Regions from separate parts of the Homo sapiens genome. Here regions 1, 3, 4, 5 and 6 are each linked to region 2. The links come from fine-mapping of genetic effects on gene expression. A gene starts in region 2. Each other region holds a variant in brackets. All regions are shown on one strand. Distances are from middle to middle.

The links.
Region 1: its variant is fine-mapped to the expression of FAM149A in whole blood (TOPMed, PIP above 0.99).
Region 3: its variant is fine-mapped to the expression of FAM149A in blood mononuclear cells (TOPMed, PIP above 0.99).
Region 4: its variant is fine-mapped to the expression of FAM149A in whole blood (TOPMed, PIP 0.97).
Region 5: its variant is fine-mapped to the expression of FAM149A in prostate (GTEx, PIP 0.97).
Region 6: its variant is fine-mapped to the expression of FAM149A in skeletal muscle (GTEx, PIP 0.90).

What each region holds. Positions count from the first base shown.
Region 1 is chr4:186,136,439-186,140,528 of GRCh38, reverse strand. The region is part of intron 1 of FAM149A (family with sequence similarity 149 member A); the gene reads right to left. Among named protein-coding and RNA genes, the nearest start is that of FAM149A, 34 kb to the right of the region's middle. The variant A/C (reference allele first, on the strand shown) is at 2,120.
Region 2 is chr4:186,102,786-186,106,870 of GRCh38, reverse strand. It overlaps FAM149A (family with sequence similarity 149 member A), which reads right to left and starts at 2,167. Exons shown (of 14, transcript NM_001395294.1): 1 at 1,229-2,167. The coding sequence starts at 1,794. RefSeq lists a silencer at 2,188-2,247.
Region 3 is chr4:186,148,420-186,152,509 of GRCh38, reverse strand. FAM149A (family with sequence similarity 149 member A) reads right to left here. Exons shown (of 14, transcript NM_001395294.1): 2 at 3,227-3,337; 3 at 2,806-2,944; 4 at 465-607. Among named protein-coding and RNA genes, the nearest start is that of FLJ38576, 41 kb to the left of the region's middle. RefSeq lists a silencer at 2,377-2,572 and an enhancer at 2,591-3,790. The variant G/C (reference allele first, on the strand shown) is at 2,374.
Region 4 is chr4:186,202,501-186,206,590 of GRCh38, reverse strand. It overlaps CYP4V2 (cytochrome P450 family 4 subfamily V member 2), which reads right to left. Exons shown (of 11, transcript NM_207352.4): 8 at 1,289-1,391. Among named protein-coding and RNA genes, the nearest start is that of CYP4V2, 13 kb to the right of the region's middle. The variant G/A (reference allele first, on the strand shown) is at 2,221.
Region 5 is chr4:186,176,012-186,180,101 of GRCh38, reverse strand. No RefSeq gene overlaps it. Among named protein-coding and RNA genes, the nearest start is that of FLJ38576, 13 kb to the left of the region's middle. The variant C/T (reference allele first, on the strand shown) is at 1,647.
Region 6 is chr4:186,142,877-186,146,966 of GRCh38, reverse strand. The region is part of intron 1 of FAM149A (family with sequence similarity 149 member A); the gene reads right to left. Among named protein-coding and RNA genes, the nearest start is that of FAM149A, 40 kb to the right of the region's middle. RefSeq lists enhancers at 2,214-2,714, 2,715-3,215. The variant C/G (reference allele first, on the strand shown) is at 1,923.

The DNA of each region.
Region 1 (4,090 bases), 34 kb before region 2:
AGGATCTCTTGAGCTCAGGAGTTCAGAACAAGCCTGGGCAACATAATGAGACGTTGTCTCTACAAAAAAAAAAAAAAAAAAAAAAAAGCTAGGTGTGTTCACATGGATCTGTAGTCACAGCTAATTGGGAGACTGAAGTGGGAGGATCACTTAGAGCCCCGGAGATGGAGGCTGCAGTACTCCAGCCTGGGTGACGAAGCAAGACACTGTCTCAAAAAATAAAAATAAAAAGTGGTATATGTGATTATGTGATCACCCTCTGAAAATTAATTAGTAATATAAGATATAAAGTTATTCCAAAAATTATAAGCAACTCCTCTAAAAATTGACCTGATTTCACGTGCTGGCTCTGTCTTGCCCTAGCCATGCAATCCTGAGCTGATAACTTAATGCTGTGAGCAGAAATTAGCTAAAACAAGGCTAATATTACTGTCTTCCTTGTAGAGTTGTGTGAATTAGAGACAAATTTTGGAAACTGCATATAGATACATAATAAATTGTAAATTATTCCTTTTTTCAGCATTTAAAGCATTGAGAGTGGTTTTTTTTGTTAGGTGGAGTATTAAACCAGTTCATTTTAATATTATGCAATATAATACACAAAAGTTACATACAGTTTTTTACATTTATCCAGTACGAGCAGTCCTGGCTTTACATGGGTATCATATAAACTGAAACTTGTGCATATCAGAACTGTGGCCTTGCTTTGCAAATACAAACATATACATACAACTATGTCATCTCTCTATACCATAGAGCTGTCTCCAGTAGCAATGAGCACCTCCAGTGCCTAGATCTTAGTTCCTAACACTGTCCTAGTCCATCTGGGCTGCTATGACAAAATACCATAGACTGGGTGACTTATAAACAACAGAAACGTATTAGGTGGATGCAAAAGTAACTGCAGTTTTTGCCATTACCTATCTCCCACAGGTCTGAAGGCTGGGAAGTCCAAGATCAAGGTGGTAGCAGATTCAGTGTCTGGTGCCGGCTCCATGCTTCCTAGATGGTGCCTTCCAGCTGTGTCTTCACATGGCCAAAAGGGTGAAGAAGCCCCCAGGGCCTCCTTCATAAAGGCATGAATCCCACTCACGAGGGCTTTGCAATCATGACCTAATCGCCTCCTAAAGGCCCCACCTTTAGTACCATTTCATTGGAGAGAGATTTCAACCTATGAATTTTGGGGGATACAAACATTCAGACCACACCAAATACTATTCTCCAATAGAGGGACCAGGGCTCCATGGAGGAGTGGCCGATTTGGGGGCTGAGGCAGGGCAATATAAAATGTACCTGGAGCATCTTGTACTGCCAGACTGTAGGAAAGTGCTCAAAAAACAAAAACCAAAACAACAGAAGAATGAGAGCATGTCACAGGAGCCATCCTGAAAGAGCCCCAAATGGCTAAAGCTAGAACAACCTGAGTAACAAAATACATCATGTGCTATCGGATTATAACTAAAGTACAAAATACATTTCTATGAGCCCATATTGATAGAAATAAACAAATAAATAAATAAATGGGGAGAAGAGGCACATTTCCCACAGAAGAACTCTACCCCAGTGGTGTGTGTCTCCCCTTCCAGGAGGCGGGCATCATACCTTCTTCTCCAAGAGTGCAGTATGGAAGCTTGACTCCAAGAGTGCAGTATGGAAGCAGGGGGTGACTTTACAGGGGAGCAGCCTGACAAGCACTCCCGGAGCCAGGTGGTCAAGGCTGGCACCATCCGTGATGTGTCATGTTGACACGCACCCTTGCAATGAGGCAATGAGAAAGGCACTTCCCTTCTGTGGCCTTCCCCCCCAAACCCATAACCCCAGTCTCACCATGATAAAAACACAAGGCGAACCCCAGCGGAGCGGCCTTCTACAAAACACATGACCAGTACTCCCCTAAACTGTCGTGATCATCAAAACAAGAAAGTCTGAGAAACTGTCTCGGATCAGAGGACACTGAGGAGACGTGACAACTCCATGTAATGTCAAGTGGACCCTGGAGGAGAGGAAGGGCACTGGGGAAAACTGGTGGTGACGGTTAATACAGTTTAGGGGACCCTGCGTGAAGCAGATGACCCTCCATCATGGGGGTGGACCTCATCCAATCTCTGCAATTCTCTGG[A/C]TCACTATTTGCAAATTCACCTATTTGCTAAAATATAATTGTAACCCCCAAAATAATCTGTCACCTCTGCAGGTTTTGGACTTACCAAGCCTCCACAATCACGTGAGCCTATTTTTAAAAAATCTCTCTCCCTCTTCACACATGCAAACACACACACACACACACTCACTCACTAACTCATCCTGTCTGATCTGCTTCTCTGAAAAACCCTGAATAGTACTCTGGTGAAATCAGAATAAATGTGGAGTTTAGTTAATGGTAACGGATTGATACTGGTTCATTAGTTGTGACACATGTACCAGAATAATAGGGAGCTGCTTTTCTGTAAATCTAGCTCTAAAATAAAAAGTCTGTTTTAAAAATGCTTGCATTAACCTCCTCTATACATTTAAATATATTTTACAAGTTGGTAACTTCCTTCATAGAAGACTAATAAAACAATATCATGTTTTATTATTTTAATGGGAAGAGTATAAAAATCTTGGAAAGTGCTAGGTAAACTATGAAGTCCATAGCTTATATAAAATTATAGAAAAATATAGAATATATTATTTAATATTTAAAAATTACCTAAGTGGTGAAATTTATAAGTACATTGTTTTAAATGAGTCCAGGAAATTGCAATAAATAAATATGATATTAAATGATAACAGAATTTTTCTTTTATGAGCATGTTCTAGGAATAGCCTGTGTAAACCAAGATATAGCTCTAGATTGGGATTGAAAGGCTGCATGTAATATTGAAATGGTGGCATGCAATATTGCCAGAAAGCCACCAGATGTCAACATTTCCCCTCTTTCATCACTATAAAAAAAAAAATCCTTGCCCAGATTTTAATACTTTATGGTTTCTTTTTTGCAAGATTTAGGATTTGCCGAATTTTCATTCCAGAATAGATAGGGAATCCTGTCTCAATCAGAAGTCAGCATTTCAGTGAACAGTAGGTGGTACGCACAGCCGACAGAAAGTGCGTACCATGCACATATCATACCATGCACATGATATGAATGTGCATGAGGGACAGGGTATGCTTTCGCTCTGACCAGCACTTAGAGCCAGAGACCAATGTACCTTACTCGTAAACCTCACACCACCACATGAACAAAACCTTCAGCCACCTGAAAGGTGGCTACTCTTTTATATAGAAAAAAAAAAAAGAGGGTCAGCAACATCCAGTAAATTCCCAAGGGTACACAGCTTTATCCAGATCAGTCCAGTCTAGCTTTAAAAGTTTAGCTTTCAAAGATTCATCTCAAATCCAATTTGCTGATTTCTGTTAAAGTTCCTTTCATTATTGGTCTATTTTAAACACAACAAATATGTTCTACCATAGTATCCACTAACATTTCCTGAATATGTACCACACACCAGGCCCTGCTTTAAGCACTTAGAGAGAGAGAGAGAGAGAGAGAGAGAGAGAGAGAGAGAGAGAAAGAGAGAGAGAAAGAGAGAGAGAGAGAGAGAGAGAGAGATCAATCAGTGTATTTGAGCTTCACAATCATTCTTCGAAGGGGGCACTGCTGTTAATGCCATTCTGCCAGTGAGAAAACTCGGGCACAGACAGGTGGACGGAAAGGCAGAGCCACCTTCTTAGGCTGTGGGCAGCCTGGCTTGTTGAGCACCCCACCTGCAGCCCTGCAGGGCACACTCCCACAGCTCCCTACAAATCATACAGAGACGCTAAAGCTCCTATACATGGCACAGATTATCAGGACATTTTGAAATTGCTATAAATGTTGTATCCAAAAAAGGATGAAAAATACTTAGACTTTTAATATGAAGAGTATAAAAAGCATAGAAAGTCCTAGGTAATCAATAAGGTCCACAAGCTTATAGAAAATTATAGAAAAATATAGAATTAGTACATTATTCAAAATGAAATACCTAAGTTCTGAAACCCAACTTTTTAAAGTAAGTGCTAAAATTTATCACGGAGAGTAATTATTAGGCAGAATCATATGAAATTGTCC
Region 2 (4,085 bases):
TCACGCCATCATCCTCTTGCCTCAGCCTTCCGAGTAGCTGGGACTACAGGCACGTACCACCACGCCCGGCTAATTTTTTGTATTTTTAGTAGAGACGGGGTTTCATCGTGTTAGCCAGGATGGTCTCGATCTCCTGACCTCATGATCCGCCCGCCTCGGCCTCCCAAAGTGCTGGGATTACAGGCGTGAGCCACCGTGCCCGGCCGCTTGTTTTCATATTGACATGAATATCATTCAATTTTGTGAAACTGTAATTATTTAAATTGTGAGTGAGTCAGGATCAGTATGAATGCAAAAATTACTCAGGATTTTTTGGAGGGAGTAGGGAATGGCCTCACTAGATTACAATGCAGAAACCTCAGTCTGTGAATTGGCTCATCTGTCTTTGACCATTTCACTATTTCTTTGCAGCATTCAGGATGAAAATTTACCCACTCAAGAATAGCTAACGATATGCTCCACTCTAAAAATTAAAATTCATCCTAGTTCTAAAACACATTTTAAAAGAGCAATGTTTTTATCACGACTCTTGGAAGTGAAAGGGGTGTTGTGTGGGTGTGTGTGTGTTGAGGGAATCGGCCTCCGATTCCCAGTGAAAATGTTCCCATGAAGTCAACGTTTCTGCAGTGACTCAGGGCACTGTGGAAAGCTCTCAGGAGCTCTAGGGTAATAATCAGACGTGTCCTGGCCATTACAACTCCATTTGTGTCAGATGATGTCATGCATATGTAAATTAACTAGATGTCACACAAAGGAGACCCATCCCACTTAGGATAAGACTAGGGACTGGTCCTTAGACATTAGGAAAGCACCAGGTCTCACCACTTCTTAAAACACTTGCTGCAGACGTGTGTATTCGGTTTCCCTGCACACCTGCTATATTCTGAGACAAAGAAAGGGACTTCAAAAAGTCCTTAAGAAAACCAAACAAACACTCTAAGTAGCAATGCTTCTGGTAGAAGAGAAACAAAATTCTGTCCCTTCCTTCAAGGCCCCTTAGGATTCACTCTGAGAAAGCTGGACAAAGCATGTCACAGCTTATGTCTGAAAGCCCGCAAAGCCAAGGAGTAAAAACCCAGGAAACGTGCAAGGAGGGTGCCCAGGGGGTTATGAAAGTTACTACAAATATTTCATTTCCTGAAGTGCACCTGCGAAGGTGAGTGCGGCAGGCGGAGGGGTCGGGGGTCCCGGCAAAAGGTACACGCGCCCGGACCACGCTGCTACTCACGCTTCGCCATCCCCGGAGTCGCCGTCCGAGGCCCCCTCCTCGCCGATGTCAGGCAGCGTAAGGAACAGGGTTCTGGGGCCAGCCCCGGGGGCCACGCAGGCGCCGAGCTCTCGCTCTCCGGGGCCAGGCTGGAGCGGGTTCCTGGGGAGCGCGGCCCAGACCCCGCCGGGGCCCGAGGGCGGCCGCGCTGGGACCACCAGGCGAGCAGGGGAGCAGCCCCCGCCGGAGGGAGTGGGGGGCTGGGGCGGGGCTTTACCCGCTCTAGGGCTACTGGGCCAAGAGAGCAGGGTCCCCACTGCTCCCGCGGCGCGGCTGGCGGCGGAGCCCCGGGAGTAGGGGGAGGAGAGCAGCGGGGCGGGCGACCGCCGCGAGGCGGAGGGGGAGTCCGGAGCCAGGGCGCGGAGGAGGGTCGGGGCGGTACCCAACGGGGTGCCCGCCCTGGAGCCCCCCGACCCTGCAGCGGCAGCACCTCCCGAGGGTCTGGAGGAGGGGCCTGCGGGGGGCGCCGTCGAGGTCTCGAAGAGTTTGGCCAAGAGAGACCCAAGGTCCAGCACAGCAGCCTTCATGCCTCGACAGTGGACACGCCGTCCTCGCCGCCGCCCGAGAGTTCAGACCGCGGAGATCCGGCCGAGGCGGCCCGGGCCGGGGCGAGGAGCCTGAGGTCCCCGCACCCGGAGCCCCGGAGGCCCCTGGCTCCCTCTCCTCCCCGAGGACGCTCAGCTCCGCGCCGCTGGGGTCGCCCTTCCCCGGCCCGGGTCCGTCCGCCGAGCGCCCCGGCTGCGGAGAGCAGCCCCGCCTCGTCCCAGCGCCGTGAGACCCCCGAGGGCCGAAGGGCCAGGAGCCCCGGGAAGCGCGGCCGCCGCCCGCCCCAGACGCCCGCCGCCCGCCGCCCGCCGCCCGCGGTTGCTACGTTCAACACACCCGGCCGCGCTCCAGGCTAATTGGGCCCCAGGTGCGGCTCGGGCTGTGCCCGCGGGGGACGTCCCACTCCCCGCCTGGTTCCGCCTTAAAGGAACACGCCCCCATTTCCCCTGCGCCCCGAGCCTCGCAGATCCCATCCGCCGAGCTCAGGGCCCAGGGCTGGGAAAGAGAATCCTGGCTCCAGAAGGTTCTGGAACTTACCCAGCCTGACAAGCTTGCACGTGCTGGGGTCAGGCCACCTCTCTGACGATAGGGAAGGTGGGTAGAAAGATGTATTTGGGCGAACGAGCTTGAAACAGCAGCATCCACTCCCCCACCCCAGGGTCCTACTCAAACCCTGTTACTAAGGGTGGGGTGGGAGCAACCGCGAGGTGCGCCACCCACTAACCTGCAAACAAGACCGGCTCTGAGAGCTGAAGTAGAAAGACCTACGCACACCTGTTTAAACACCTGTCGGAGTGAACCAAGAGACTGTGTAATTCAAATGTTTGAGAACTCAAATTATAATCGGAACGACTACAAATTCAAAGACAGATATGGAAGGCAACGTTTTCTATTCAGTGGAATAAATTGTATTTTGCTTAATCTGAAAAATATGTGTGAAAGGTAGAGCGTATAGGTGCGAGCATCTAAAGGGGTGTGGGGTCAGTGTTGAACAGAGTTAAAAAATAAGATACTGCAGCCAGGCTCGGTGGCTCATACCTGTAATCCCAGCACCGGGATTGGGAGGTGGGAGGATGGCTTGAGCCCAGGAGTTCCAGGCCAGCCTGGGCAACAACATAGGGAGACCCCATCTCTACAAATATTTAAAAAAAAAAAAAATGCCGGGCCTGGTGGCGCATGCCTGTAGTCCCAGGTACTCGGGAGGCTGAGGTGATCGCTTGGGCCTGGAGTGAGCCGTGATCGCACCACTGCATTCCAGCCTGGGCAGTAGAGTGAGACCCTGTGTCAAAAAAATAGTAATGAGATATTGATGGAGTTTGTCCATTAATATTCAGGAGAGGATCTCAGGAGATACATTTCCTGATGTGGGGTAGGGAAAAGAGATGAATTAAGTCTGGCAGTGAATAAACTGACATTCATGCTTATATACTTGAATCTTTTGTAAGTTATCAAACTGGAGTCTGAGCCACGGTAAACTTCCAGGTAATGCTAAGTTTTGCGTTATTTGGAGGCAGTTAACAAGTCTTCTGTCATGATCCCTTTTCTACATCTAACTGCCACCAACATGTACTGGGCACTTGTCTGCTTCAAGATTGCATTAAGCACAGACATGCAAAGAAAGAGCGGTTCTCTTCCCAGAGCATGGAATAATCTGCTTCACGTCATATGCTGAGTGTCCCGTGAGTGCCCTGGAAGACAAGCACAGGTGATGGCAGCCATCGTGGTCAACATTCGCTTGGGGACAGCAGAGCATTTGTGTGCCTAAGGGAAGTAAGAGACATGGGTGACTAGGGTGAGATTTTAAAGGCCCTTGGATGTTCGGAGAGGCGAGAGCACGCAGTCGTCAGCGTGTGAAGCACCAGCACACAGCGAAGAATCAAAATGAGAGAAAAAGGGAATTAAGAACAGACACCTCTGAGAGCAGCAATGGTAACAAGAGGGAGAGGGTTGGGGGCAAACCAGGGAAGCAGTGCCAACTCCGTCACAACGCAGAGACACCAGGAACAGGCTGCTGTTGAACCATGAACTTTTCTCGTGCTCCCTTGTTCCCCTTCTGCAGCACTCACCAGGTAGCCTCAGAAGTCTGGACGTTCCCTCCGAACACTGGACTGTTTTCATGTAGCACTCATTCAGGACTGCAAAGCAGTTTCCCACAGATTTTGTTCATCTTACAAGGATCTTATTCTGATTCATGGAGTAATTAAATCCTTAATATATCAGGTCACTTTCAATGCAAATAGAAGTTATTTCTAGAGTATGTGCTTTCAGTGAG
Region 3 (4,090 bases), 46 kb before region 2:
CCCAATCCATATTCTCCATCTTTGATATGAAAAGTAACACATGCTCCTCCCTACATAAGGAATGGGTGAGATGGGAAGACCCATCTATCCAGCCGTTCAGCAAATCATCTCTGCCCACCCTCGCTGTGTTCTGTGATGAAGACAGACATGTGCTGCTCACACACAGTGAATGTGAAGGTAAGAGGTGGCCTCCACCATTCTTGCATTCGTATATGTGTCATGCCCTTCTCAGGATGGCCTGAATTTGCTTCTCACAAATTAAAAGGCGCTTGAGTACTGGAATGTCTCAGTATTTCCTCAGACGCCGTAAGAGGAAAGTGATCTCTCAGTGAAGGACTGCGCTCTGCATCCATATTCTGACTGGGCAGGCACTTTCACACCAAATGTACTGAATGTATCGAGGCAGGTCAGGGGTGGGTGCTTGGAAAACCCACCCCAGAGAACTTCCACCACCAAGGTCCCACCTCAAATGGAGGGATCTTCTTGTCCACTCCCCGCATTCGGCCAGCAGACTCTGGGTCTGAGGGTTCACTTTCCCTTCAAATAACATTTCCTCCACCTCCCAGAGTAACCGCTGCACTGACTGTGAACTGGCTTCGTCAAATTCCTAAACAGAAATGCACACTTGGTTACAACACTGCAAGTTACAGAACTGCGGGCTTCTGGATCAACGCTACTTATACATTTACTGTCACCCACTATGTAGGAGGGTGCATCACTTGGTAAAAAGATGGTGGCTTTGCAGTCAGACACACCTGTGCTCTAGCTGTTACCTTTCTGAGAAATGCCATCTCATTCTGAGCCTCGGATTCTTTTACTGTTAAATAGAGAAAACTTCTGCCACGGAAGTTATGAGACTCAAGAATTTGCATAGATAGAGGTATAGATGGACGTGTTCATACTGCCACAGACATCAGCGTAGACACACAGACACGTCCACATCTGTATGTCTGCAAACACAGGCAGCTCCTCACAGAGCTGTGCCTGACACACCTAAGCACACCTGCAAAATACAAGATTTTTTTTTCTTCTGGTGATACCACAGAAAAGAAAATTACTTTTGTAGAAAAGGCCATTAATCTCCTTAAATCAATGAACTGGAAAAAAAAATCCTTAGTTATCCTAAGAAGTGTGGTTATTAGGGTGAGGCCTGAGTATTAATGGAAGTTATACGAATTTCCCTGGTAATTCCATTAAACGTTGTACTAAAAGAATCCTAGAATTTGGACAGAGTAAAGCAGTGGTGCTCAGCCTTCTACCAAGGAAGGCGGGCTTGAGGGATGGTGGTGAGTGGGCGTAAGGGAGAGGAAGGAGGCAGCTGCCCCTAAGTAAGGGAGCTGCGTGCGTGAAAGGTCCTCCTAGCAGTGCTGAGCTGAGTCCCTTTCAGACCCCCTCGGTGCACCTGCCCTGCCGGCTCCCCTGAGAATCACAGCTGCACAGCTGCGGACAGAAGCGGATTCCCATGTGCAGTGGGAGTGGGGAACCACTTTTAAAGAAAGCAAAGAGGCTGGGCGCAGTGGCTCATGCCATGGGAGGCCCAGGCAGGCGGATCACAACGTCAGGAGTTCGAAACCAGCCTGGCCAACATGGTGAAACACCGTCTCTACTAAAAATACAAAAATTAACTGGGCATGGCGGTGCACACTTGTAATCCCAGCTACTCGGGAGGCTGAGACAGGAGTATTGCTTGAACCTGGTAGGCGGAGGTTGCAGTGAGCCGACATGGCACCACTGCACCTCAGCTTGAGTGACAGAGCAAGACTCTGTCTTAAAAAAAAAAAAGAGAGAAAAGGCCGGACGCGGTGGCTCACGCCTGTAATCCCAGCACTTTGGGAGGCCGAGACGGGCGGATCACGAGGTCAGGAGATCGAGACCATCCTGGCTAACACGGTGAAACCCCGTCTCTATTAAAAATACAAAAAATTAGCCGGGCGTGGTGGTGGGCGCCTGTGGTCCCAGCTACTCGGGAGGCTGAGGCAGGAGAATGGCGTGAACCCGGGAGGCGGAGCTTGCAGTGAGCCGAGATCGCGCCCCTGCACTCCAGCCTGGGCGACAGAGCGAGACTCCGTCTCAAAAAAAAAAAAAAAAAAAAAAAAGAGACAGAGAGAGAGAGAAAGCAAGCAAGCAAAAAACAACAACAACAACAACAAAACACCCAGCATAAACGAGGTAAAACAGAACACCCAAGGTGCTGCAGCCAGGTGGGCCTTAAAAAGGAGGGCTGTGTCCTGGGATCCACGGAGACCCTTGGAGGGAGGGGGAGGGAGGAGACTGGAGCCAGTGAGCTCCTGAGCAAGCTGGAGCAGTGGAGGCAGAGCTCGCCCAGCCAGAATCCCAGGCTCACACAGACAAAAGCAGTTCAGAGGCAACAGC[G/C]CCCCCAGCGGTAGGGGGTGAAGGTGAAATATCCGACTGGGAATACTGGCGGGGAGTTCTCTAATCACAGTGGCTGCCACAGCTTTTACTTTTCCAGCATTTCTTTCTTATTCAAGTCCTGAATTTCCGGCCATGGATACCATCCAAGAAGTCACAAGGAGCACACACCCGGAGAGCCGGCTGCAGGGTGGAAACAAGAAAACTGCGGGCAGCTAAGACGGGGCCAGAAGGTCACGAGGGAGTTCTGTTTTCCTCCACGGTTCGTGATCTATTATTTTCACATGTAACATGTACATGCTTTTACATGTATGTACATGTATGTATGCAATAGGTCATGCTTTTATAATTGGTAAAAATAATTTTGAATATAAGGAAGCAACTCTTCACTATAAACTGTAATTACAAGATTATCCAAAATATTCTGAGACATACGTCATCTCTCCAGGAATAAACGGAGCCCCTCTCCGTGGATGAGCCGGTGGTAGAGCTCTGTGTGGCCGACCCAGACCAAGAGGTGTGGGCTCCCGTGGGTGTATGGCTTCCGCTGGAGGAAAAGGATGACAAGGATTTGCTGCAGGAATGAACATGAGCAAAGAAATCACATTTGCTGGAAGGGCTTGGATGGCTAAGTGGCTTCACTTTTCTGAGCCTGCTTCCTCTTTCTTTCATTAAATATATTTATTAATTTCACAGTATACTAATTTTGAAATATTTTTACAGTGTGATGTTTACACTAGGTTAAAAATAAAACTGCATCTTACTTTTAGAAATTCATGGCCAGTCACTAACTTCCTTCCCACATTTGTTACGGGCATTTTGTGATTTTGTAATCTGAAGCAAGGTGAATTCTTACCAGGTATATTTATCAATGGCTTTCTGCACATTTCTTGTAAAATGCGTAGGTAAAGAATCTTTGCTCCTCACAGTAAAACCGTGCCTTCTACGTCCTTCTGACAGTCCTCTTCTGGAAATAAAATAAAACATGACGAGTCTCCCTAATGTAATAATATAGTTTTATTCATTAAGACTTTTAAAATTTCTCTTTTATACAAAGTTGCTCCTCTCGTTCTGCCACATCCCTCCAAACCCACCTGTGCATGAGCGCACACACACACACACACACACACACACACACACCCCATCCTGATGAAACTGAGACTTAGGATGTCATCATTTTTCTTTTTCTTAAAATCAAGGTTGCCATTAACCTATATGTACCTTTATGTGAACTGAAGACAACATCAACTTTTTGTGACTCAGCCAGAGAAGGAAAAGTTGCCCCAAACAGTTCACAGTATTTCAGGGATTTCAGGTCCCAGTTGTCCCTTGACCAGGGACAAGGGACTTACTTACAAAACCCAACCACTCCTCCAGTAAAAAAATCATTAATCCCATATTAATTAAGAAACATCAAATTCTTTAGACTCAGAAGCCACACAGACACCTAACTTGCTTTAATCTAGCATTGCTGTTTGTGGGTATACTGAGTTTTCAAGAGTTAGAAGATATTAAAATTTAATGAAGAACTAAAACAGAAGAAATATCTAGATGTTAAATAAACTATTAAGCCTAACTGGTGTAGCACAGTTCCTGTTAATCATTGAAATGTCCTTTCAATGAACCGCTTAAAACATTTACTTCCTCTAGTCAAAATATCTTCCTGATGTTTAATAATCAACAACTTCTGTTCTTCAATAGAAATCTTATTTTCCCTTAC
Region 4 (4,090 bases), 100 kb before region 2:
CTTTATTCCTTTAGTTTTCTTTCCCTGCTTCTCACTGTAAAACTGCATCAGATACCACTTGTTGCTTGGCTAACTCAACTTTATTCCTTTTCACCTTGCAGCTATTGGGGGCCATATGACACGTGATTTTTAACAAGGATAAAATCTATGGAAGCCTCTTTGTGGCAGACTGATAATGGGCCCCAAAATATCAGGTCTTAATCCCTGCAATCTGTAAATGTTACCCTATTTGGAAGAAGAGAACTCTTGGCAGATTTGATTAAATTAAAGATCTTACAGTGGGTAGATTATCCAGGTGAGCCCTGAACGCCATCACAAGTATGTCACAAGTATGCTTGTGAAAGACACACAAGCACACACATGCACACACACACACACCACACATGCATGCACGTGCGTGCACACACTCACACCCAGAGAAAAGAGAAGGCGATGCAGAGACTGGCAGAGATAGCAGTGATGCGGCTGTCAGCCAAGAAATGCTGGCAGCCACCGGAAGCTGAAGAGACAAGGAGTGGATATTTTCCCAGTGGGCCACAGCCCTGCCCACATGGTGATGTGGGCTCAATGACACTGATCTTTGACTCGGGTGTCCAGAACTGTGAGGGAACAGACGTCGCTGCTGTGAACCTCCCTGTCTGTGGATTTGTCACAGCAGCAGCCACAGGACACCAACACACCCGGTACCCCCACCTCCCCTGTCTTCCTGCCTTGAAGATGAACGTGATGCTTGGAACGTCAATCATGAGGACAAAAGCCAAGATGGTAGGGATGGCTGGGAGCAAAAGGGCAAGTCTGGGACCCTGGACATCCTACTGGCAGGACTTTTCCTCCGGGCTGCTTGCTGTGTAATAGAAATGTATCTCCTCGAAGCTTAATCCACCTTTTTAATCCACATTTTCTCTCCTTTGTGGTGAGAGGCAATCTGCGAAACAGCTTTCCTGTACCTTTCTAAATAGTTTCACCAGCTCCTCCTTTCTCCCAAATAGCACCTTCTTCACTCAAATGCACGACCCATGACTCAAAGCCTCTGTTTCGCCTGGGTAGCAGTGAGACCCTTGAGGACAGCAGCACGCATCAGTGCACCCCAGCATCCGGCCTAGTACAGTCACTTGCCAGGCGACTGGCAGAGGCCTGTGAGTGAATGGACGAGGCCTTGCAAAGGGGATGGTACTGGAAAGGATCCCGTGGGGGAGCCTTCCTGCTCATTACACTGTGTTTACAACACAGTGACATCTCTGCAGCAGACTTAGTACCACAATATAACCAGTGAAGGGGCCAAACATACCAAACACGTCATCCAATTCATGATCCACTTTTTTCTGGACTTCTGGGTTAGAACCCAACAGGTATAAGGACCAGTTTATTGCAGCTGCAGTTGTATCGTGCCCCTACAAATGCAGAAAACAATAGCTTAAAAAGCAGAGTTATGCTGCGATGATTAGGAGTGACCAGAAACCTCTTTTGAATTGTCTCTGGATTTGATGACTGCACTGTGACTGCAAACATAAGAAATGAATTCTGTGCAGCACCTTGCCTCGGTGACAAACAAGGAAACAAGCCTGCAAAGCGGAGGTTCATGCCTAGAGATGGCAGTTCCACGCCGCACGGTGTTGCACGCTGGTGGGACGTGCCTGTGCTGTGTTAATAAAGGCGGCGTTCCATGGGCACGAGGTGAGCTGCGCCTTTGTGAACAGAACAAAGTCTGATTTTCACGAGCCTGCTTGTCAGGGCTGTACTTCTCTGCCTTCCCCCATCTGTCAGGTGGGCCTCACCTGTTGATGACGGGCACCAGGGGGTAGAGGTGTGGTTCTAAGTCATATCCTCTGCAGTAAAAATTGACAACAACCTCATTTCATACTTGCTGAGTTTTAGGCAAAATACTAAGCACTTTGCAGAAACTGAATTAATCTGCACAAAAACTCCATGAAAGACTCATTACTGTTCTTTACAATTCAGAGATTAAAAACTGAGGCCAAAGATGTGGTTAAATAACTTCTTCTGTGCTAAACAGCTTAGTGGGAAACAGAGGCAGAAACTGAGCCTGCGGCGTGTCCGATGACAAAGCCAGCTGAGCCCACGCCATTCCCTCCACACCCTGTGCAGTAAGGACGCTCCACCTCCACCTCTTACGCCAGCGTAACGTCTCCACCTCCACCTCTTACGCCAGCGAAACGTCTCCACCGCCACCTCTTACGCCAGCGTAGCGCCTCCACCGCC[G/A]CCTCTTACGCCAGCGTAGCGCCTCCACCGCCGCCTCTTACGCCAGCGTAGCGTCTCCACCGCCGCCTCTTACGCCAGCGTAGCGTCTCCACCGCCGCGTCTTACGCCAGCGTAGCGTCTCCACCGCCACCTCTTACGCCAGCGTAACGTCTCCACCTCCACCTCTTAGCGGTAGCGTAACGTCTCCGCCTCCACCTCTTAAGCTAGTGTAATGTCTCGGGCAACCTTCTTTCCCACCCATTTGATATTTCAGGACCTGGCTTCTTATCTACCTCCTCATCTCCCTAGCACATTTCCATATGCAAAAGTGGTGAGTTCTTCAGAAAAAAAAAAAATGTATCTGGAAAGTCAATAACAGTAATCTACCTCTCTGAAACTTTGAGGACAAAAAGAAAAAACAAATTATTTCCTCTATAAAAGATCTCACTTTTCCATTTTTCCTATGTGGCACAAGTGATTTTTGTAATATTTCATTCTCTGTGCAGAAATCTTCAAAGTACTTGTTTTATAAAACAGCTCCTAAAATGAATTGCTCGGGGCTTATTCTGCAATTCTTAAAAGACACAGCCTACAGGTCCTGAGGTCGGCGCCTCTGCATTTTCCTAGCACTTGCAGTTACAAAACCTACTCGGAACTCCAGATGAGCTCCGGCCCGTTGTGCTCAGTTGTCTAAGTACGGAAGGAAGTATTCTGGCTAAACAATTTTAATAGCTTTCCTTGAATTTATGAGCGGAAGCCTGATCCAAATGCATAAGAGGAGTCTGCTGAACTTCCGATTTCATTTCATCTGCCAACTGCAGAAAGCATGATAAGGCAAACGTAAAGCACCGAGGCACACTGGTGGAGCAGGGGAGGACGCCCACTTTTAGCTCACAGCTGGAACCTGGGCAGTTGCAGCCTGCACCAGCCTGTGGAGGAGGCCACAGTATCACACTCACAGCCTGCACCGGCCTGTGGAGGAGGCCACAGTGTCACTCACAGCCTGCACCGACCTGTGGAGGAGGCCACAGTATCACACTCACACCTGGTATGCTGCCTCCCTTTCAATGCAAAGAAGAAAACAATTAGAATGTCAAGGAATGTTAGAGTTGGAAGAAAAATCATTAGTCTGGTTCTGATTGTTTACGTGAGATTGAGAGGTTCCTGGTAGGAGATGGATGTGTGTGTGCACATGTGTGTACATATGTGTATGGGGTTGTGCACATATATGAATGTGTGTACGTGGATATGTACATGTATTTGTGTGTGCCTTTGTGCTTATGTACACGAGTGTACATAGCTGTGTGCATTTATGTGTGCATGTGTGTATATATGTGCATCTATGTATGTGTATATGCGCATGTGTGTATGTAGGTGTGTACATGTGTTTTTGTATGATTGCATAAATGTACATGAATGTGTGCCTCTGTGGGGGGTGGTGTGTGCATGTATGTGTATGCATGCATGTGTGCATGTGGGTATATGTGTGCATGCATGTGTATGCATGCATGTGTGCATGTGGGTATATGTGTGCATGTGTGTGTATGTGCATGAGTATCTGGGTGTGTGTGTATATTTGTGTGTGAGTGTATGCACGTGTGTGCGCATGTGGATATACATATGTTTGTGTGTGCATGTATGTGCATGAGTGTATGTAGGTGTGTGCATGTGTTTGTGTATGTGTGTATATGTGAATGTGTGTATGTTGGTATATACATGTGTCTGTGCATGTGTATGTGCATGAGCATATGTGTGTGTGTAAGTGTGTGCATGTGTGTGCATGGGTTTACATGAGTGTATGCGTGTGTGTGTGTAGTACATGGGCAAGGTGAAGATGTGAGATCTCTCTACTCCGACATGCAATAATAACACCCGGTATGTGCCGCATACT
Region 5 (4,090 bases), 73 kb before region 2:
TGGATTTTCTATGTACACAATCATGTTTTCTGTGAAAAACCAAATTGTTTCTTTCTTCCTAAATCTTAAGACCCTTTAATAATTTAATCTTGCCCTGCTGGGGTGGAAAATATATTCTGTATCATGAATAACAGTGGCGGTAGCTGACACTTCGTATTATCTGATCTCAGGAAGTATAGCTTCTTCAGTAAGTAAAATCAGAATAAAATTACCACTAAGTATGCAGTTTGCAGTTGTTTTTTTCCCCTAGATACTCATGAAGAGATAACAGTGATATTCTTATCTTCCTGGTTGACTAAGAATTTTTATAAAGACATTTTCTTCATCTTTCGAGAAGATCCCATGCTTGTTTCCTTACATCATTTGTTGCACTGAATGATTTTCACATGGTACATCAAACTTGCATTTCTGAAATAAATTTAATTTGGATGGTACGTATTATCTATTTCATATATTACTGATTTGATTTTGCTTGGGAGTTCAGGGATGATATTGGCCTATAATTCGCTTTTTTTTTTTTTTTTATAATTCTCAGTTACTTTATTGTAATTTACTTTTTTTTTTTGTAATGTCCTTGTTAGGTTTTGTATCAGGGTTGTGGTAGCCTTACAAAATGACAATCATCTTGAATAACTTTTTTGTTAGTTTTTTAGAGAGACAAAGTCTCACTCTGTTACCCAGGCTGGAGTGCAGTGGCGTGATCATAACTCACTGTAACCTCGAGCCTCTGGGCTCAAGCAATCCTCCTGCTTCAGCCTCCCAAAGTGCTGGGATTATAGGCATGAGCCACTATGCCCAGGCCTGAAGAGCTTTTTGATATTGCTACTAGTGGTATTAGTTTTTCCTTAAATATTTGGAAGGATTAACCAATGAAGTCAGCAGGACTTGGAGTTGTCTTTGTGAGAAGGCTTTTAATAATACATTTAAGTCTTATAATAGACATAACCCTTTTCAAATTTTCTATTTCTTCTTGAGTGATGTGATTTTTTCAAAGTTTTAATTTTCATCTAAATTACCAAATCAAGTTATTCATAGTATAATGCTTATCTTTTTTCACATCTATAGAATCAGCAGTGGTATGCCTATTTTCATTCCTGATAGTATTTTGTGCCTTCATCTCGCTATATCACACGCACTGCTTTATAAAACTCTACCTTAGAACAGTAATCCTGGACAATGATGAATCTATAACACTTTAACAGCAAATAAACCCTTCCCAATTTTAAGCTATTTCTATAATATTTTAATCCCAAATATATACTGAATTCTGTATTACTCATTATTTTATACAGTAAGTATTCTTTTCTATTTTCCCACGTATGTATACATTCTGATCTTTATTACTTCTTCTTTTATCATTGTACTTCCTTCTGGGATAATTTTCCTACTCTGTGAAGAGCTCTCGTTTGTATTTCCTTTAGTACAGATTTGCCGGTGATAAATTCCCAATTTTGGTTTATCTGAAAATACTGCTCTTTTGCCCTCATTTTTGAGGTATATGTTTACTACGTATAAAATTCTGGGTTGGCAATTATTTTTTTCAGCACTTTAAAGATGCTTTTTATATTGTCTTTCAGCTTCCATCACTTGTGTTGAAAAGTCAAATATTAGTCTTATTGTTGCTTCTTTGAAGATAATGAGTCTTT[C/T]CCCCCTCCCTCTGACTGCTGTTTGGTTCTTTTTGATTTGGGGTTTCTAGCAGTTTGTGATGGACCTGAGTATGTTTTGCTTTCTATCTTGTGTTTCTTATAGCTTCTTAAATGACTGCATCGATGTCTTCTATCTATTTTTGGAAGATTCTTTCATGGTATCTGTTCAATACTGCATTGTTCTATTCTCTTTCTCCTCTATGACTATCATTACACGGATATGAGATTTTTTCACATGGCCTCACAATTTTTAAGGAATATCTATTTTTTATGCTTGTTCAAAGTGAATACTGTGTATTGACCTGCCTTCCAGTTTACTAAGCCTCTTGTCTGCTATGTGTAATCTGCAGTTCAACACAGCTAGTGAATTATTGAGTCATTGTATTATTCATTTCTAGGATATCAGTTTGATTATTTTTCAGATTACAGTTCTCTCTTGAAATTGTTTTTCAATATATTTTTGAATGTGCAAATCAAATTGTTTCTTAGCTTGTACCTGATAGTGCTACTATTTTAATCACGTGTGGGTCCATTATAATTTTGTTTTCTCTCTTGGCTTTCAGTCACTTGGCCCTATATCCTGGGCTGTCTCTTAATTTTAGATTGAATGCTGTACATTGTATATAAAAATAATAGAAATTCTAGGTGATGCTATATTTCTTTAAAGAGGATACTTTTTCTGGTGGTCATATAAAGTACAGGCATATAACCTGGATCTAAACAGAGGTTTCATTGATTCTAGGTTCTGCTTCTAGTGTTTTGAGGACTTGTCTGTATTAAGCTTGCCCTTACTCCTAGAGTGTAGTCCTTCAAGATTATCAATTCAAAGTCTGAGACATTTCCCAACATCATTCCTTTTGGCAGCCTAGTGAGCTTGTCACAAATTTTGAGGGTATCCCTTTTTCTTGGCCTCTATGCCCCATTACTAATCTAAAATATATTGATACAGGGAAAGAAAACAGTAGCAAATATGGGGTTCATCTCAATGTATTATTCCTGTTGTCTCCCAATTTGTTTCCTGAAGTTGTGCTGCTTTGTCTTGGGGGGCTGGGTGGGTGTGGATGTGGGTGTCCACGCGTGCCTCCAAAGAGCTGTTTCTTGTCCATTTATAGCTTTTATAGTTGTTCTCAGTAGGTCAGTTTGCTCATGAACTATTCTTTCATAAACAGTAGTGGAATGCCTCCATGTTTATTTTTAACATCATTTTGATTCTGTATATTTTTGAAATCTTTTGCCTTCTAAGCTAAAACTTTCACCCCCACAATGTTCTTTTTGTGAACTCTGAAGACATCCTTCACAAGGTGTAGCCTTCTCTGAATGTTGCTTCTGAGTTATAACTTACTATTCACTCAGCTCTGTCAGCTTTTTCTTTAATTTTCCAGTGGGAATACACTCTGCATGTCCTCCAGAGAACACTAGAGCTATCTTCCTTTTTGGATCAACATTTTTATACTGAATAATGACATTCATCAAGATGAACCTTACTAGGAAACACACGTGCATGCACACACACACACACACACACACACACACACACATACTCTACTCCCCTGTACAGAAAAATTCCCTGGAAGACTTGCCCATGACTACTGTCTTGGATTTCTCTCTTCTTCTTTTCTCCCAAACCCACTGCAAGCCTACTTTCGCCTTGTCCATTCACCTAGCAGATCTTGTCAAGGCCACCAGTAACTTCCATGTGGCTAGACCTTTAGTCTGATTCTCAGACCTCATCGTAATTGACTCATCAACAGCATTCAACATACTTGAGTCCCTATCACTTCCTTGAAACACTTCCCCCGCACAAACACACACATACTTTGAGGACGCCACATTCTCCTGACTCTTATTTCCCTTCACCAGCCATTCTTTCTCAGTCTGCTTTGCTGGTTTTCCTTCACATCCCAGGCCTTTAGATGTTAAAAGGCACAAGGCTCAGTACTTCTTTTTCCTCCATTTCTCTACACTCATTTTCTTGGTTGCCTCATCCATTTCAGTTCTTAAATACCATCTACGTGCTGACAATCCCCAAATTTATACATCCAGTCTATACCTCACCTCCACACCCAAGTGTGGATATCCAAATATCTCAATATCTCCACTTAGGCATCTAATTGGCATCTCACACATAACTTGCCCCTCATGCTGCCAAACGTGTTCCCCTTGCAGTCTTTCCAATTTCAGTGAGTGTCAACACCATCCTTCCAAGTGTGAAGCCAAAAGCCTGGAGGCATTCTCGATTCTTTTGGTAGACACACTCCACCTCTCATCCAACAGCACATCTTTTGGCTCAAATTTCAAAACACATGCAAAGTCCTGGGATTCTCATCAGCCTTACCACTATCATCTGACTGAAACAGGATCATCTCTTGTCGATTATATCATTCTATCCCCAAAACTCAACTGCTCCAGTGGCTTCTTATTTCATATTTCCCATAGTCCAAAAG
Region 6 (4,090 bases), 40 kb before region 2:
TCATCTTTTAAGCTAAGCACCTGAAATAACACTCGTCACACAAAAGATGCCCTCGGTTGAAAGACTCAAACGGCGAAGACGAAATTAGCAACTCAAATGCGGAACTCATTTTCACTACAGAATTACTCTGAATGTTTATGCCTGAAACATAGGATTACATCGTGACCTGACATGAAAATATTCCCCAGATTCAAGACACTATTGGATAACGTTTTACTCGTTAAAAAGTCACAGCTCTTCTTTGGGCAGCTGATATTCCCCCAAATGGTTTTCACCGCCAAACGGAGCATCTGCTCTGCTCAAGACGGTCTATCCTGCTTCTAGCTCCTCCTCCTGCTTTTGTGCAACTTTGAAGCCAAATTCAAAATGGGACGCATGCGAGTTTGTTTCAATGAATAATTTATTCCTCTAGGAAATTCACTCTTTTTCAGGGGAAAGGGTGGAAGCTCTTTTCAAATTAAGGAGAAAATTATTTACAAAACGGAGGAACTCATCTCTCTTCACATCACACCACATCCTTTCCAGGACCAGGCTTCCCACTGTCTTGGACGCAGAGCTGAGCCCAGGAGGTCTTGGGATGCAGGGCAGGGGGAAATGGGAAGTTGGGTAACAGTCACACCAATTATTACGAATTAGGTGCCTTAAAACTCCCCTACTCCATGCCATTTCTCCCTCTTTTTTCCTCTCTGACCTTCCCCTCTGTATCTCCTTTTAAGCAATTTCTTGAGCTTCAGAGTTCAGTGTAATAACATACAAACTTGACCACACAATTCACAAAAAAACGAGGTGAACAGGAATTTAAGTCCGTAACTCAATGATTGCCCAAGAGCACAAAGAAGATAGGGACAGAGTTTCTTCGAGGAACCAGGCCACTGACCTGCCTGTCTCTCCAGTGGCACAAGTTACTAACATCATGAATTAACAGCAGAGCCTACAAAATCCCTTTCTTGTCTTTTTCTTTTTTTTTTTCTCTTTCACATCTTGTTTTGGTTCTTTGGTTTCTCTGTTCTCTAACCAAGGATTGGTTACTGGTCCCTCATGCATAATGTTGAACCTCTTTAATCCCCTATAAACTATGGACTAGTTCTGTATCCTACACAGTCTAAGAAAGTGTACACAACTTACAGGATGCATCCCACAGGTATTTTAAAACTTGAATATGGTGGCATGTCCATGAAGCTTCTAAACATAGACATGCAAGTTCTATACTAGTTCCTGTCCATACTGTTTAAATAGAGCAAGGCTGTTGATTTGGGGACAGGTCTTCGTAGGGTGGACTGAAGTGCAGTCACTAAACTAGACTGCACTCATTTGTTGGCGCATGGAGGTTAAGGGTGAGTTCCAATCTCCATGACTCCATTCCAGCTGTCAGGAAAATCATCATCCAGAGTTACTGTTTTAGGTTGCTTCTTGACAGCCCACAAACCTCTGCCACACTGCTTTGTAGAAATTCTAATGTCAGTGACAGCAGCTTTCAAAATTTTCTATTCCTAGTTGACAGGACTGTCTGACATAAGCACTGTACTCTGAACGGGTTAAAATGCAGGCTGGTTTTCTGGATGGGGGGACACACAGGGGCACTCCAGGGTGGCCATGGGAAGCCGCTCCTCAGCACGGAACACTCACACCGCCCTGACCCAACACCAGCAAGTCCCAGGAGCGACCGCAGTGACGAAGGAGTCCCTTTGGCGGCGAACGCTTCCCCGCGTGAGCCATGCCCGGGGCCGGCCTGACGCTTCCCGAGTGCCTGCAGGGAAGCCCGGGCCAGACGCAGCCGGCCCGCGGGCGGAGAACACCGCGCACATCGCCTGCAGAGCGGCCAGAAGGCGAGCCCTGCTGCCGGATGAGACTCACCCGATTACGATCAGCCCCGGGCCTGTGCTCGCAGCCCCCGCGCCAGGCTCCGCGCTAGGCTCGGGCAC[C/G]GTCAGGCAGAGGCACCGCGCGCGGGCCCCACGCAGACAGCCGGTCACGCGCCCCCGCGGCCCCGGGGCTGGGGCTCCCCACCCGCCCGCGCCCGCGCCCGCGCCCGCGCCCGCGCCCGCCGCGCGGCTGGCCCAGCTCAGGCGGCCCGGGCGCGCCCGGGGTCCGCGGGGCTCGCACGCCCCTTCCCTCTCCAGATCCTCCGCCCCGCCCGCGCCGGCGCCGCCTCCCCTCCTCCTCCCTGCGCTGCGCCCTCGCCCGCCAGCTAATCCCGGCTGCGCCCGCCCATCCCCGCTCCGGGCCCCGGCCCCGGCCCCGGCCCCGCGCCGACCTCCGGGAAAGCGCGCCTTCCCCGCTCCCTGCCGGGCCGGGTTTCCAACCCAGCGGCCACTCCTCCGCGCACGGCCCGGCCTCCCTACTCCTTCCCGGGTCTCTGGGGCCGGGGGCTGTGCATACTGGTGCTGGCTGCCCTTCTCTCTTCCAAATCGGATTTTAATTCACCAGAAGAAGGCAGAGAACCACAGGACCATCTCGCCTATCCCCGCCCCATCAAAGGGTGCGCACACCAGGCTGGGGTGGGGAGTGGACGAATGAGGTTTAAAAAATGAAGCCCCGGATCTGGTCAATGCGAGAACCATTACTCCATCAACAGGAACGCTAGATCTAAGCATGCATACTAAAGACGTGGACCCTTCCACGCCCGTCCTGCCCTACCGGCTCACACAAGCCGGTGCATCTCCTGCACACCCCGAGCATGCCTGCCGCTTGCGTTACCATGTGCTCGTTTCAGTTTTGGAGGCCCAGGATTATACCAGGAGCAGAGCAGCTGGACGCTCTCCTGTGAGCTGGTGAAACTGCCAAGCCGTCATTTTCACATGCTAAGGGAAGAAGGGGTGAGGTCGCGGAGGTGAACTACATTTTTGAGTCTCAGAGGGTGGGCACTGCACGAGGCATGCCTTTCCCACGACAGGGATTTTAGTAATGACAGTTAGTGCACTGGGTGCCGGTACAACACTCATCCCCGTCCTGCCGTAGCCAGTCTCTTTTGAGAGCTGAGGCCATCTAAGTTTCAACAGGTACAATTTCTCCTGCCAAGTATCCCGTATTTACAGAGGTAAACCATGTATTTCCGAGTTTTTACTAAAAAGCCCAGTTTATTTCTGATGCACCACCCTAGCACGGTGACAAGAAATCACTACCAATAACAAAAACAGTAGTCCAGCCAGGGTGGCTCACGCCTGTAATCCCAGCACTTTGGAAGGCTGAGGTGGGCGGATCACTTGAGATCAGGAGTTCAAGACCAGCCTGGCCAACATGGTGAAACCCCAGTCTCTACTAAAAATACAAAAATTAGCTGGGTGTGGTGGTGCGTGCCTGTAATTCCAGCTACTCAGGAGGCTGAGGCATGAGAATCACTTCAACCTGGGAGGCGGAGATCGCCCCACCCACTCCAGGCTGGGCGACAGAGGGAGACTCTGTCTCAAAAAAACAAACACAAACAAAACAGTAATCCATTGTTGAACTAAGAACACTGGAATCCTCCCCACTTTTATAAAAGTGGTAAGTGGTTATAAATTATAAAATTAATGAGATTTTAAATCCTGATACATGTATATGTGTATATGTGTGATGTGTGTGTATGTGTATACATATCTATCAGGAAAACTATGGTATCTTAAGCCCACACAGACTTGCTGATATTATTTATATTGCCAGGGGTGGGAGGATGGGCATGCCAGGGAAACAAAAGAAAGGAGTCTGGTGTGATGGCTCCCACCTGTAACCGCAGTGTTTTGAGAGGCCAAGATGGGAGGATCACTAGAGCCCAGGAGTTCAAGACCAGCCTGGGCAAGACAGCAAGACTCTTGTCTCAAAAAAAAAAAAAAAAAAAAAAAAAGTAAAAATCGAACACAAAGTCATTTAAGATCCAAACATATGCTAGCTGCTTTTACTTTTATATATATTATTTTACATATATTCTTACATATATTTAACACCCATAGTAGGTAGACACTATTATTACAATTTTGTTGATAAAAATACTGATGTCAGAGACCTTAAGTAACATGTTCGAGGTCACACAGCTAGGATGTATATGTGTGAATGTGTCCCAGATATCTATTACCCCATAACAAACCACCCCAAATGTAGATTAAATCAACAGTCATGT